4 linked regions of the Homo sapiens genome follow. The protein of the gene in region 3 purifies or fractionates together with the protein of the main gene of each other region. This does not show direct contact. Each region holds a gene or a part of one and is shown on either strand. Other genes may lie near its edges.

Region 1 (3,011 bases), on a different chromosome or scaffold from region 3:
AATTTTTATTTTTTAAATTGACAAATGTATATATTTATTGTGTACATGTTTTTATATAGATATATTAAGTTATTTTAAGATTTCAAAGCTTATTCTATTTCAGTAGCTCATACTACAGAAGTGAGATGCCATTTACAACTAATAGTTATGTAAATTTAAAAATAAAGTCTCAGCCTGGGCAACATATACCCCATCTCTGAAAAATCAAAAATAAAATCTCACTGTAGAAGAAAGTGGGATGAAAAGCAGCATGCCAGTTTATTTAGAAAGTTTCCAAGATAATTGGGATTATGATTTTCCAGCCTTTTTTATACCTGTGTTTAGGATTATGATCATCTTACTCTGGAATTCTGTGGAAATTATGTAATAGATACAAGAGTTTAACATAATTTCATCATTTATTGCAATAGTGAAAAAGAATAAAGTCAAAGAACCTGGAAATGGCATATCTCCCTGTTGGTGAATATAATTTAGTAAATTGATATATCAGTGTGATGAAATATGATGCAGCCATTAAATACTAAGAAGACTGCGTAGCAAAAATGGGAAAATCTATTCTAATAAAGTTTAAAAAGGAAATGTGGACACTGAGTATAGCCATGTAAACGTACCTGATGAAAGGCAAAAAAAACAATAACAGACAAAAACAACTCTGTTGTAGTAGTAAGGTTTTTGTTATAACCTGGTAAATTGTATTTTTCTTTTTAAAATGGTAAGATAAGGGATAAGCAGAAGTACCTGGTATTACAAGAGAAAAGTGGCTCTAGGAATGTAAAGACATCAAATGAGAAGTAGGATATCTAGACAAAGAAACTTCCTCATGATTAGGTGAAAGAAAAAAAAAACCAAGAAGCAGCTTTGTAGAAAGAATAATTTATTACCCATATGTTGTTACTGAATATTCTGCAAAACAATTTTGTATTGTATTTGCACAATGAAAGAATTTTGCATAGTCTTAAAAACCTTGTGTGCAATGATTTCTTTCCAAGGTACACATTCGAGTAGCTTCACCACCAATTAAATATCCATGCTTCATGGGAATAAACATTCCTACAAAAGAAGAGCTCATTGCCAATAAACCAGAATTTGATCACCTTGCAGAATATCTAGGTAAGTATTAAAATTTCTATAAACTTTGATTATTAACAGAGAAAATCCAAAGCTTGACAGTCTTTACACCTTTAGTAAAAAGGAGTATTCAGTGTTTGTTAAAAGTAGTTATATATGTTAAACAGATATTGAATACTATTCTCAACAGTGAGAGTAGTGGGCATGGGCAGACACCACAGAGTCTTGTGTTGGAGAGCTAAGCCAAGGTGAGATCAGAGAAGGAAGAGGTGGTTTCCAGGTGGAGGGAAGTGCAATCATAATCACTTAAAGCCTCCCAAAAGTCAGATCCCAAGAAAAACAAAAATAATTTAATCAGATTCTAACAGAGTAATTTGGATGTGGATACAAATCACAAGGTAAAAAGTTTGTGTAGGTTCATATTCAATAATGAGATAAGGAGACTTCGAGATCTAAGTTATCCTGGGTAAGACATCTTCCTTTCAAAATCAGGTGATGTATAAACTGTGGAAATAACACATGATATTTAGTCATTGTGCCTTGGTACCTCCACACCATCTGTTTGTGGCTGGTGTTTCTTTTAACCTGTCATGCATATGCCTCACTGGTTAAATATTTTTAAATATCACCCTGATGGGTGTCATACATGTTATAAGCACTCACACTTTGCCAGAAACTATGCTGCCTATATTATCTATATTATCATAAAAACTCTACATTTAGGCAATGTTTCCACCATCTTATATAGATGAAAAAATAGACTTAGGAAAACTGAGTGAACTTGAGCTTAACTTTGAGCCTAGATCTTCCTGACTTTAAATTCCATTTTTTCAATTAAGAAAATTACTCCCAAAGCCCTCTAATTCCATTCTAGACTTGAAGCCTCCTCTGCTGTTTTAAATTATGTTATCCCCTAGATTCCAATTAAAATTTTTAAAAATAAAGGAACTGAGTTTTATTGATTTTTTTTCCTTTTTTTTTTTTTTAAAGAAAGGCTAAAGGAGAAATTTATCCTAGCTTAAATTATTCTGTTTGTAACTATTCTCTGTTGACGCGTTTCTTCCTTTCTAAAGGAATTCTTATTACATTTTTATTTTTCCCTCTTTCTTTAGGAGCAAACAGTGTTGTGTATCTGTCAGTAGAAGGACTGGTTTCATCTGTACAAGAAGGGATAAAGTTTAAAAAACAGAAAGAGAAAAAGCACGATATTATGATCCAAGAAAATGGAAATGGTCTGGAATGTTTTGAAAAGAGTGGTCATTGTACAGCTTGTCTCACTGGAAAATATCCTGTAGAATTAGAATGGTAGCTGGTAGGGTTGGATGTGTGTAGTTTCAAGATAGAAAGTTGGTCAAGAAGTTATAGTGGTCACACCTCATCTATTTACTGTTACTCAGTTGGTACAATGTAAAATGCCATGCTTATGTTTATAAGTTTTGAGATTTTTTTTTTTTCTGAAAAGGATACCAAAGTGCGATAACTGAACATTTCCAATTGCATATAATACAACAATATGTGGTGTTCTTTTTTTTACACAAGCATTGGCTAGCCTTTTTAACCTGGTCAGAGAAGGCAGGTGGTCACTGACATTTCCCAAGTCCATGCTTTAAAGGGTTTGCAAGAAGTTAGGGTTAAGGAGAGGTGATGCCAACAAGACAGGTGAGTTAAATATACCATTTCACACAAAGTTTGAATAGAATACATTATACCTCATAGGTGTCTAGCCTCTACAGTTCTGGCTGTAGTTATGACCTTGGCTTCCCTGTCTAACTGTAGACAAATCTTTAAAAAAAAATAATAATAATCTGGTGCCTCAGTTTCCCCACATGTGCAATGGGATACTTATTAAATAATTAATAAGAATGTGAATAAGTGTCATACTTTTGTGATTTGAGCCATCATTTCACTTCTGATTTTAAGACAACTCATGATTGTTAGCTTTC
Region 2 (4,134 bases), on a different chromosome or scaffold from region 3:
CTAATAGGATGAATTATTGTTACGAAGCGGCATTTGAGTGGAAAGAATTGTTTTGGGGAATTAGAACATACCTGATGTTAGTTGAATGTGTAACTGAGCTAGAAATAAAATGCTCCTCCTTTTATAGGAGAGGTTGCTTGTTCTCCAAGCCCATGTCACTCAGCCTAGGCCGGGGTGAGGGTGTCTGCATTCTCCTAATTCCATATTGCTACGTCCTCTGGTCCATCTGTAAGATCTCTCTATCTGGCTGTCCCAACCAAACCCTCCTTTTCAGCTAAATTCTTAGGTTGACCTTGTGTGCTCCCAGTCCTGCAGTCATCCTGGTTCATTTTCTTAAACCCCTCGGTTCTAAGGGTCTTTCCAGCCTTTGTTACCTCAAGTCATTTCCATGATCATCTTAGACCTGGTTAACACAAGCAGACATTTCCAGTGCTGAATTCTTAGTGTCATGATGGTGGCTTGTTATCCTTTCTGCCTTTCACCTTCACACCTGTTCTCAAACCTGCCCAATAACCTTGACACATCTAAATTTGACCAGTCTACCATCAGAGTTCCCTGGGGTACTCGTTACAAATAGATCTGACTAAATGGTACCTACACAGGTGCCCATGGTAACCTTGAGTCCTGTGAATCTATGCCTGCAGAGGGATCAATAAGTAATTGATTAAATGATTATATTGATAATCAGATCTTGCCTCTTCTCTAAGTTGTATCCTCAGACTCTTCAGATTCCATGAGTCCTGTTGTGGTTGAACAATTATAATTTACATACCTGTTTTTAAATCACTGAGTTAAATGTCATTTTTTCATTGCATGCAGCCATCTGATGCCTTAATTTTGGGGAAGATAAAAAATGTTGATTGCGTCCTCCTTGCAAGGTATGGTATTTTAAGCTTTTTGGATGTTACTACTAAAGGATAATTTAAATTTAACTTAAATTCTGGAAAGAGTAAAGATACAGGTCTGAGCTTTTATATGTTGGCAGAATCAGAACATCTTAGTAACCTTTATTTACAATGTTTTATTTTTGGTTAAGTTATATTGACTTAGGAGATCAAAGATCTCATGCTCTTGCCCCTTACATTGGGAAAGTAGATCAGATGACTAAAATCAAAGCTCTGGTTTTAGTTCTAACTGCAAGAAGAAATGTTTTGTTCATTTTTTTCCCCCTTCTTATAAAGATAAAGAAAAACAATGCATCATTAATGACCTCTTGCTGGTAGTAGTTATATGTCTGTGGGAAGTAGGCTTAGGGCTTCTGAAGTGGGTTACTTGTGTCTGTGCTGTTGTTTCCTTAAGGAGGCTGGTGCTGCTCCATATTACAGAGGAGGCCAAGTCATTTTTATCCCATTGTTAGAAGTTAGTCAAGATATATGTATGAGTTCTCTACTGTTGTGTAACAAATTACCACAAATTTAGCAGCTTAAAATAGCACACATCATCTCCTAGTTCCTGTTGGTCAGAAGTCTGGCACAGCTTAGCCAGTCCTCTGCTTGGGGTTGCACAAGGCCCCACAAGGCATATTCAAGGACTGAGTCCCCATCTGGAGCTTGAGGTCCTTGTTCAAGCTCGTGTAGTTGTAGGAGAATTCACTCCCTAGAAGTTACAGGGCGGAGGCCTTTGGCTCCTAGAGGTGGTTCACATTCCCTGCCGTGTGGCCTGCTCCACAGGCTGTTCACTTGACTGCAGCTTGCTTCTTGCTATTAGGATATGGCAAAGGTGCTAGAAGTCACCTCCATGGTTAAGCTGTACCTTGCAAGCATGCAGGAGTCCGGCAGGAGAATCTCCTATGCATGCTTGCAAGGTAGAGCCTAATCGTGGGAGTGACTTATAGCACGTTTACCATTTTTCTATTGGCTGAATGCAAGTCCCAGGTTCACTGATCCTTTATACAGAGCATGACAGTGGGGTCCTCACTAGGGTCTGTCTGCCACTCTACATATTTGAAACAGGAGTGGCTTCTCAGAATCCAGTGAACCTAAATTTTAGTTTTAGTTGCTCACTGGACTGGGTTCTAGGAGACCCCCTGTGTTAGTCTGTGGTCATTGCTAGAGAATCACTTAATTTTTTCTAGACTCTAGGAGAAAACAGTTGGTGGTGTACTCATCACGGGTTAACAATTTCTTCTCTCCTTCCATAGGCATGGAAGGCAGCACACCATCATGCCTTCAAAGGTCAACTACCAGGCGAACATCTGGGCTTTGAAGGAAGAGGGCTGTACACATGTCATAGTGACCACAGCTTGTGGCTCCTTGAGGGAGGAGATTCAGCCCGGCGATATTGTCATTATTGATCAGTTCATTGACAGGTAAGCAGTCATACAAAATGCTTTAGGCTATTGTAGCTGGTCATTTTCAGCTCAAATGGACGACGCGTGGGAACCGGCAGGGCAACTGGGAGGGCAGTGCCACAGACTCGCTTGCTTTTTTTTTTTTTTTTTTTTTTTTTTTGGAGACGGAGCCTCACTCTGTCTCCCAGGCTGGAGTGCAGTGGCATGAACTCAGCTCACTGAAACCTCCGCCTCCCAGGTTCAAGCAATGCTTCTGTCTTAGCCTCCCGAGTAGCTGGGACTACAGGCACATGCCACAATGCCCAGCTAATTTTTGTATTTTTAGTAGAGATGGAGTTTCGTCATATTGGTCAGGCTGGTCTTGAATCAGGAGATCACCCGCCTCCGCCTCCCAAAGCGCAAAGTGCTGGGATTACAGGCGTGAGCCACTGCACCCAGCCTGTGTTAAGCTTTTCATTGTGAGTTTTTGTTTTTTAATTTTAATTGACAAATGATAAATGTATATATGAGGTATAACATTATATTTTGATATATGTATGCATTGTACAATGATTAGCAAAGCTAATTAACATATTACCCCACATATCATCTTTAGTGGTGAGAACATTTGATTTTTACTTTAACAATTTTGAAATACATAATACGTTGTCATTAGCTATAATCACCATGCAGTATAATCTCAAAAACTTATTCCTCCTGTCTAACTGAAATTTTGTGCTTTGATCAACGTCTCCCCAAACCCCAGCCCCTGGTAACCTTTCTACTCTTTACTTCTATGAGTTTGACTTAGTTAGATTCCACATATAGGTGAGATCATGCAGTATTTGTCTTTCCATGGCTGGTTTATTTCACTTAACATAATGTCCAGGTTCACCCATGTTGTGGCAATTGACAGAGTTGCGTTCTCTTTTAAGGCTAAATGGTATTCTGTTGTGTATATATACCACATTTTCTTTTTTTTTTTTTTAATTGTACTTTTAAGTTCTAGGGTACATGTGCACAACGTGCAGGTTTGTTACATATGTGTACATGTGCCATGTTGGTGTGCTGCACCCATTAACTCGTCATTTACATTGGGTATATCTCCTGATGCTTTCCCTCCCCACTCCCCCAACCCCACAAGAGGCCCTGGTGTGTGATGTTCCCCTTCCTATGTCCAAGTGTTCTCATTGTTCAGTTCCCACCTATGAGTCAGAACATGCGGAGTTTGGTTTTTTGTTCTTGGGATACTTTGCTGAGAATGATGGTTTCCAGCTTCATCCATGTCCCTACAAAGGACAGGAACTAATCCCTTTTTATGGCTGCGTAGTATTCCATGGTGTATATGTGCCACATTTTCTTAATCCAGTCTATCATTGATGGACATTTGGGTTGGTTCCAAGTCTTTGCTATTGTGAATAGTGCCGCAATAAACATACGTGTGCATGTGCCTTTATAGCAGCATGATTTATAATCCTTTGGGTATATACCCAGTAATGGGATGGCTGGGTCAAATGGTATTTCTAGTTCTAGATCCATGAGAAATCGCCACACTGTCTTCCACAATGGTTGAACTAGTTCACCTTCCCACCAGCAGTGTAAAAGTGTTCCTATTTCTCCACATCCTCTCCAGCACCTGTTGTTTCCTGACATTTTAATGATCACCATTCTAACTGGTGTGAGATGGTATCTCATTGTGGTTTTGATTTGCATTTCTCTGATGGCCAGTGATGATGAGCATTTTTTCATGTGTCTTTTGGCTGCATAAATGTCTTCTATTGAGAAGTGTCTGTTCATATCTTTTGCCCACATTTTGATGGGGTTGTTTGATTTTTTTCTTGTAACTTTGTTTGAGTTCTTTGTAG
Region 3 (4,134 bases):
TTTCAGTTCATAAAATTTATAAAATACTTAGTTGTTGTAAAATATTTTTGGAATGTTCACATAGGTGACACACAAATGTCCCATTTTCATTCTTTCTATAGTAAATATGTTCTGATATGTGAAGGTTTAGCAGATGCATCAGCATTTAATCCTAGAGGATCTGGCATAATCTTTTCCCCCAAGAATAGAAATTTTTTCTGCTTATGAAAGTAGTACATGTTTCTTTAAAAACAAATCAATATTGACTTCTGCCTGCTGTATAGCACTATGCCTCCACCTGGCCATGACCAGGGGCATGTCCTGGTCCACCTACCTGAAAATGTTTGCAACCAGCCTCCTGGCCATGTGCACAGGGGCTGAAGTTGTCCCACAGGTATTACGGGCCAACCTGACAATACATGAAGTTCCACCAAAGTCTGAGAACTCAGAACTGAGCTTTGGGGACTGAAAGACAGCACAAACCTCAAATTTCTCAGCACTGGAAACCTCAAAATATAACTGAATTCCATAAATAAGATTTTAAGTCTTAAATATGTATTTTTAAATGTATTAAAAGTCAAGCTGCTTGTATTTAAGCACCTAATACAATGCTTAGGTTGTAAAAGGAGATGCTCAATAGGTACTAACTGATATATTGAGATTTAATTATGGTTTGACCAATATTTATTGGAAACCGCCAAAGCTTAAATCATCAGCTTCTTGAATGTGATTTGAAAGGTAATTTAGTATTGAATAGCATGTGAGCTAGAGTATTTCATTCTTTCTGGTTTATTTCTTCAAATAGACTTTGAATATAATGGTGAATGGGTATTATAAATTAACTAATAAAAATGACATTGAAAATGAAAAAATATATATATTAAAGTGTAGAAAGTGACCAGGCGTGGTGGCTCACACCTGTAATCCAAGCACCTTGGGAGGCTGAGGCAGGAGGATCTCTTGATCCCAGGAGTTCAAGACCAGCCTGGGCAACATAGCGAGACTTCGTCTCTAAAAAAAAAAAAGAGAGAGAAAAAAATTTTTTTTATTTAAAAAAAGTGTAGAAAGTGTCAAGACCCCACTTCTTACCATTATTTGGTATATTTCTCTATACCCACCCACCCTTCCTCCTTACTCCCTCCCTCCCTTCCCAATCTTTTTATCTTTTTGTATTCTGATTTTTTGTTTGTATATTTTGCTTTAATTTAATGTATCCTTTAAAAATTTCCCATACATTTTATATGTATATATAAAAACGCATGCTGCCAAAGATAATTTATAAGAAAGACCATTGAATTTTTTTAAAAGTGATATATATTCATTGAAAAAAATTTAGAATATATAGCAAAGCAATAAAGAACTAAATAAAATTGCTGTAACTCCTCTTTCAAAGATAAGTGCTTTTATGATTTTGTTGTATTTTTTTCTGTATATAGGTACATATATAGTATTTATAAAGCTGTACTCATAGTACATTTTCACATCACAGGTACCATATCAGTGTTATTAAATATTTTGTATGCCAGGGGCTAGACATACCAAGACAACCAATATGTGGTTCTACTTAAATAATATTAGAGTATCTTTTATGATGACACTTCATGAGTTGACTATAATAATCTTAGACTTCTAAGAGTTTGGGTTTTCAAAAGATCACTTAGCTTTTTTGGGTGATTTTTCCCCCTTACTGTGAGATGAGAGAGGCTGTTTGGATTTGGGATTGGGGTAGCGGGGACAGCAACTTTTCTTTTCTTTTTCTTTTTTATTTTGAGGTAGGGTATTGCTGTGTCACCCAGGCTGGAGTGCAGTGGTGTGATCTCGGCTCACTGCAACCTCCACCTCCCGGGCTCAGGTGATCCTCCTGCTTCAGCCTCCCCAGTAACTGGGACTACAGGCGCGTGCCACATGCCTGGCTAATTTTGTATTTTTAGTAGAGATGGGGTTTCACCATGTTGGCCAGGCTGGTCTCTAACTCCTGACCTCAGGTGATACGCCCACCTGGGCCTCCCAAAATACTGGGATTACAGGCATGAGCCGCTGCATCAGCCAGCAGTTTTTCTTGTGGTTTTTTTTGTTTGTTTTGTTTTGTTTTGTTTTTGAGATAGGGTCTTACTCTGTTGTCCACGCTGGAGTGCTGTGGTATGATCGTAGCTCACTGCAGCCTCAAACTCCTGGGCTCAAGTGATTCCTTCTGCCTCCGCCTCCCGAGTAGCTGGGACTACAGGTATGCACCACCATACCTGGCAAATTTTTACAAAGTTTTTTGTAGGGACGGGGTCTTGCTACATTCCCCATGTCGGTCTTGAACTCCTGGCCTCAAGCAACTCTCCTGTCTCAGCCTCCCAAAGCACTGGGATTACAAGTGTGAGCCACCACACCATGCCAGTTTTTCCTGTTCAGTGTGATATTTTATCTTGTTAGACTACAGTGTGTTAAAACTTGTTTTACTAAATTTTCAAACATACTCAAAAGTGGAGAGAATAGTATAATGAATACCCGTATGTTCATCACCCATGTTTAGAATATTATTAAATATAAAGATTTTGCTGCGTTTGTCTTAGCTCTTTAAAATTTTTCTTTTTCTCTTTGTGACCTAAAGGAAATTCCATATCTTATCACTTTACTTCTACATTCTTGACTAAGATGACTAAGACATATAGTTACATGGTTTTTTGTTTTGTTTTTTGTTTTTTAAAGACGAAATCTCGCTCTTGTCCCCCAGGCTGGAGTGCAATGGTGCCATCTCAGCTCAGTGCAACCTCTGCCTTCTGGGTACAAGCGATTCTCCTGCCTCAGCCTCCCAAGTAGCTGGGATTACAGGCTCCTGCCACCACGCCTGGCTAATTTTTGTATTTTTAGTAGAGACGGCGGGGGGAGGTTTCACCATGTTGACAAGGCTGGTCTGGAACTCCTGACCTCAGGTGATCCACCCGCCTCGGCCTCCCAAAGTGCTGGGATTACAGGCGTGAGCCACCGCGCCCAGCCTGTTTTTTTGTTTGTTTGTTTTGTTTTTTTTGAGACAGAGTCTTGCTCTGTTTCCCAGGCTGGAGTGAAGTGGCGCATTCTTGGCTCACTGCAACCTTCACCTCCCAGGTTCAAGTGATTCTCCTGCCTCAGCCTCCCAAGTAGCTGGGACTACAGGCATGTGTCACCACACCCGGCTAATTTTTTTGTATTTTTAGTAGAGACGGGATTTCACCGTGTTGCCCAGGCTGGTCTCGAACTCCTGAGCTCAGGCAGTCTGCCTGCCTCAGCCTCCCAAAGTGCTGGGATTACACGTGTGAACCAACCCGCCCGGCCTGTTGTTTTCTTACATAATTCATTATCATACCTACAAAGTTAACAGTTACTAATATCATCTTACACCTAAATTTCTCTGATAGACTAAGGTTATTTTTTAACATCTTAATCCAATCAAATGTTTGTATCCTGTAATGCTCTCATTGAAACAGCTATATTTCTTTTTCAGATTAGTGATGATGAACCAGGTTATGACCTTGATTTATTTTGCATACCTAATCATTATGCTGAGGATTTGGAAAGGGTGTTTATTCCTCATGGACTAATTATGGACAGGTAAGTAAGATCTTAAAATGAGGTTTTTTACTTTTTCTTGTGTTAATTTCAAACATCAGCAGCTGTTCTGAGTACTTGCTATTTGAACATAAACTAGGCCAACTTATTAAATAACTGATGCTTTCTAAAATCTTCTTTATTAAAAATAAAAGAGGAGGGCCTTACTAATTACTTAGTATCAGTTGTGGTATAGTGGGACTCTGTAGGGACCAGAACAAAGTAAACATTGAAGGGAGATGGAAGAAGGAACTCTAGCCAGAGTCTTGCATTTCTCAGTCCTAAACAGGGTAATGGACTGGGGCTGAATCACATGAAGGCAAGGTCAGATTTTTATTATTATGCACATCTAGCTTGAAAATTTTCTGTTAAGTCAATTACAGTGAAAAACCTTACCTGGTATTGAATGCTTGCATTGTATGTCTGGCTATTCTGTGTTTTTATTTTAAAATTATAATATCAAAATATTTGTGTTATAAAATATTCTAACTATGGAGGCCATAAACAAGAAGACTAAAGTTCTCTCCTTTCAGCCTTCTGTACACATTTCTTCTCAAGCACTGGCTATGCATGTATACTATA
Region 4 (4,134 bases), on a different chromosome or scaffold from region 3:
GCTTCCCCAGAGGTAAGACAGGCGAGTGGGAGGTAAGACTCAGCCCCACTCCCATCCCTACCATGCATTTTAGAAACATTTCAACCAAGGTAAAAGACAGTAGGGTTTAGAGGTGACCAGGAGAGTGCATCCCAGAACACTCCCCTGAGGAAAGTGGGAGACACAATGTGAGGAGCTGCTGCTCTGCATCGTGTGACCAAGCAGAAACCCAGCAGAATTTTCACCAGAATTCTAACATTGAAAAAAATTCCGGCGGTGGCTCACGCCTGTAATCCCAACACTCTGGGAGGCCGAGGCAGGTGGATCACCTGAGGTCAGGAGTTTGAGAGCAGCCTGGCCAACATGGTGGAACCCCGTCTCTACTAAAAATACGAAAAGTAGCCAGGCATGGTGGCAGGCGTCTGTACTCCCAGCTACTCGGGAGGCTGAGACAGAATTGCTTGAACCCGGGAGGCGGAGGTTGCAGCGAGCTGAGATCACGCCACTGCACTCCAGCCTGGGCAACAGAGCAAGATTCTGTCAAAAAAAAAAAAAATTCTTTCCTTTCCATAGTAAATTATGTAGAAGACATTTTCCCTAAGCAGCACCTGGAGGAGGGGAAGCTCTGACAAAATCCTGGCCCAGATGGAACCACTAACTGCACCAGCCTGAGCCCCCTCTTTCCTACGCTCCTTTAAGAGAACTTCCACCAAGACAAGAAAATCCTGTTGAGAGAAGAGCTGGACTCCAACAGTGAACTATTCTCCTAAGGCAGAATCCTGCAAACACACGCAAATCCACACTCATCCTTTTGCTGGTGAAGAGAGAGCACTAATGGCAGAATGTACATACCCAGGATCTAGAGTCAGATGGCCTGGGTTCACACCCCAGCCAGGCCACTTCCTAAAATATGACCTCGGCTTCCTCACTTGCAAAATGGGAATCATGATCATAACACTGGCTACCTACTAGGGTAGTTGGGAGGATTAAACGGTCATACACATAAAGCATCACCATTCTGCATCATAGTGGCCCTAGAAAGATAAATCTACAAACTCCAGCTCTTCCCTTGTGTCTGCTCCTGCTGAGGCTCTGAGAACTCACAATAACAATAACAACATAGCAGCTAATATTTATCAATCACCAAGTGCCAGGTACTCAGTGCAAAATTTAAAATTTTTATATATATACACAGATTTATTTATATGTATGTTAATCTTCACAGCAACCCAGTGAAAGGGGTACTATTATTACTTCTAGAACCTACCACACAGACATGTTAAGTGACTTGCCTAAGGTCACACAGCTAGTAAATACTAGACTCTCTTAGGCAATTGTAAATCTTAAGAGCCATGAAGATTTTCTCAAAATACCCAAGTTTGGGAGTTATAGGATCCTGAGGCAGGGCAACCCTGCTCTTCCTGAAGTGCTGCAACGCAGCCCCCAGTCAGCGAATGAGAGCCAGGCTAAAAGGACCCCTTCAGATTAGGCTAAAATACAGAAAGATGTTGGCCGGTTGTGGTGGCTCATGCCTGTAATCCCAACGCTTTAGAAGGCCAAAGCCGGCGGATAACCTGAGGTCAGGAGTTCAAGAGCAGCCTGACCAACATGGTGAAACTCCATCTCTACTAAAAATACAAAAATTAGCTGGGCGTAGTGGCACGCACCTGTAATCCCAGCTACTCGGGAGGCTGAGGCAGGAGAATCGCTTGAACCTGGGAGGTGGAGGTTGCAGTGAGCCGAGATCATGCCACTGCACTCCAGGCTGGCAACAGAGCGAGACTCCGTCTCAAAAAACAACAACAACAAAACCCAGAAAGGTATTTAAGCCAGTATGTTCTGTCAGGCAGCCAGCTTCCCGCAGGCCCGACAGAGAAAGAAATGAAGGCAGGGGAGGCCCAGCTTTTGAAAGTTCTTCTCCAAAGCTGCACTGGCTGTTTGAGATGCAGGCCACAGCACCTCATGTATAGAGAGCTTTTGGGTTAATGGTGAACCACCGGATCCTGGATTACCAAGACCAAACAAAAAACAACATCCCCAGAAAAGAACAAGAGGAAAAGCTGATCAAATGGTAAAGAGATGGTGCAGAGGGAGAGGTGAGCTGGGCAGAGAATCTGATAGGATATCTGGGGCATTTGATCACCGGCTCCTGGAAACATGCTTTACTTTATTTTACTTATTATTTGTTTGTTTGTTTGCTTATTTATTTATTTATTTTGAGATGGAGTCTCCCTCTGTCACCCAGGCTGGAGTGCAATGGTGCCATCTCGGCTCACTGCAATCTCCACCTCCCCGGTTCAAGAGATTCTCCTGCCTCAGCCTCCTTAGTAGCTGGGATTATAGGCATGTGCCACCACGCCTGGATAATTTTGTATTTTTGGTAAAGACAGGGTTTCACCATGTTGGTCAGGCTAGTCTCTAGCTCCTGACCTCAAGTGGTCCATCCACCTCAGCCTCCCAAATTGCTAAGATTACAGGTGTGAGCCACCGCGCCCAGGCTTACATGTTTTATTTTAAAATGTAACCTCCGCTTTGATGAAAAATAGTGAGACCCCTCCCTGGGTCCACAAGACTGACTCCCAGAGTTACCTGAAACATGGAGGCGTGTTGTACAAGGAGCTGTTTCCAGCCTGCACCTTGTATTCCAGGACCGAGGGGCACTCTCGGAGGGCAAACCCCAGCAGGTCATCACGGACAATCACCACGGTGACCCCAGCAGAGCCAACATTCTTCTGGGCACCAGCAAAAATCACACCAAACTTAAAAAGAGAAAGACATGCTGCTTAAGAAGGATTTGGCCATTTTTCATACATGTATGCAAACTTCCCAACTCTTCCCGAAGCACAATTTTTTTAAGGAAATGACTCTATCCTGTGTAGGGAGCAGTTCATGCTCTAAAGCAATCTCCATGTGGACAGCAAACCCATACTCAGAGTTCCAAAGCCTGAGGATGATCCGTCAGCCTGGTCCTCACCTGGATGGGGCTAACCCAAGCCCATCACTGCAAAGTCCTGGCACATATTCACATTCGCTCTGCACACCTCCTTTCTACCCCCAAAGTAGAAAGGAGTCTTTAACGTGGGGCCTCTAACTCTCCCTGGTTACCAAGAGAAGAAACATTTTTTTTTTCTTTTGAGACGGAGTCTTGCTCTGGCACCCAGGCTGGAGTGCAGTGGCGCAATCTCGGCTCACTGCAACCTCTGCCTCCCGGGTTCAAGCAATTTTCCTGCCTCAGCCTGCCGAGTAGCTGGGATTACAGCGTGTGCCACCATGCCCAGTGAATTTTTGTATTTTTAGTAAAGACGGGGTTTCACCATGTTGGCCAGGCTGGTCTTGAACTCCTGATCTCATGATCCACCCTCCTCGGCCTCCCAAAGTGCTGGGATTACAGGCCTGAGCCACTGCGCCTGGCCAAAACAGATTTTTTAATCTATTTACATTTGTATAAAAGAACAGTCAGAAGGTGCTGAGAAAGGGACTGTTATGACAAAGAGAAGGGATGGGACAAGCTGCCTGAGGGAGAAGAAATTATAGAAAACAGAGGCTTAAAGGTACTTTAGGTAATTCTGTTGTGCAAGATACAGAACCCTCTCCCATGCCTCTCTCCATGAAACCCTTAGGAAAATTGAGCGTTGGCAGGAAGTTGGGGGTGGGGGAAAGTAATTTATAGTTATTTAAAATTGCCAGTGCCTGGTGATAATAAAAAGCAGACCATAAACCAAATACAGTATATCTAAACAATTATTATTCAGCCTTTAAAAAGAAAGGAAGCTCTGACACACAGTACAACATGGACGAACCTTGAAGACATTCTGCTAAGTGCAATAGAACCTTGAAGACATTCTGCTAAGTGCAATAAGCCAGACACAAAAGGACAAATAGTACATGATTCACTTCTAGGAGATACCTAGAGTAGTCAAATTCACAGAGACAGAAACTAGAATGGAGGCTGCCAGGGGCTGGACGGTGGGGAGAGAGGGAGTTAGTGTTTAATGTACAGATTTCATCTGAGAAGATGTAAAAGTTCTGGAGATGGATGGTGGTGATGCCTGCACAACAATGTGAATGCTCTCAATGCCACTGACCAGTATATTTAAAAATGGTTAAAATGGTATATTTTATATTAAATGGTAAAATTTGTTATATTTTATCCCA

What was found.
Region 1: the proteins of HPRT1 (region 3) and PPAT fractionate together in Homo sapiens (co-fractionation; one large-scale study listed by BioGRID). This does not show direct contact.
Region 2: the proteins of HPRT1 (region 3) and MTAP fractionate together in Homo sapiens (co-fractionation; one large-scale study listed by BioGRID). This does not show direct contact.
Region 4: the proteins of HPRT1 (region 3) and PSAT1 fractionate together in Homo sapiens (co-fractionation; one large-scale study listed by BioGRID). This does not show direct contact.

The regions. Positions count from the first base shown.
Region 1 is NC_000004.12:56,394,718-56,397,728, reverse strand, and holds part of PPAT (amidophosphoribosyltransferase), read left to right. Parts: intron 1-989; coding exon 990-1,110; intron 1,111-2,180; coding exon 2,181-2,377; 3' UTR 2,378-3,011. UniProt on the Homo sapiens protein: Catalyzes the formation of phosphoribosylamine from phosphoribosylpyrophosphate (PRPP) and glutamine.
Region 2 is NC_000009.12:21,815,895-21,820,028, forward strand, and holds part of MTAP (S-methyl-5'-thioadenosine phosphorylase), read left to right. Parts: intron 1-819; coding exon 820-878; intron 879-2,140; coding exon 2,141-2,308; intron 2,309-4,134. UniProt on the Homo sapiens protein: Catalyzes the reversible phosphorylation of S-methyl-5'-thioadenosine (MTA) to adenine and 5-methylthioribose-1-phosphate. Involved in the breakdown of MTA, a major by-product of polyamine biosynthesis.
Region 3 is NC_000023.11:134,469,911-134,474,044, forward strand, and holds part of HPRT1 (hypoxanthine-guanine phosphoribosyltransferase), read left to right. Parts: intron 1-3,448; coding exon 3,449-3,555; intron 3,556-4,134. UniProt on the Homo sapiens protein: Converts guanine to guanosine monophosphate, and hypoxanthine to inosine monophosphate. Transfers the 5-phosphoribosyl group from 5-phosphoribosylpyrophosphate onto the purine.
Region 4 is NC_000009.12:78,307,018-78,311,151, reverse strand, and holds part of PSAT1 (phosphoserine aminotransferase), read right to left. Parts: intron 2,739-4,134; coding exon 2,569-2,738; intron 1-2,568. UniProt on the Homo sapiens protein: Involved in L-serine biosynthesis via the phosphorylated pathway, a three-step pathway converting the glycolytic intermediate 3-phospho-D-glycerate into L-serine.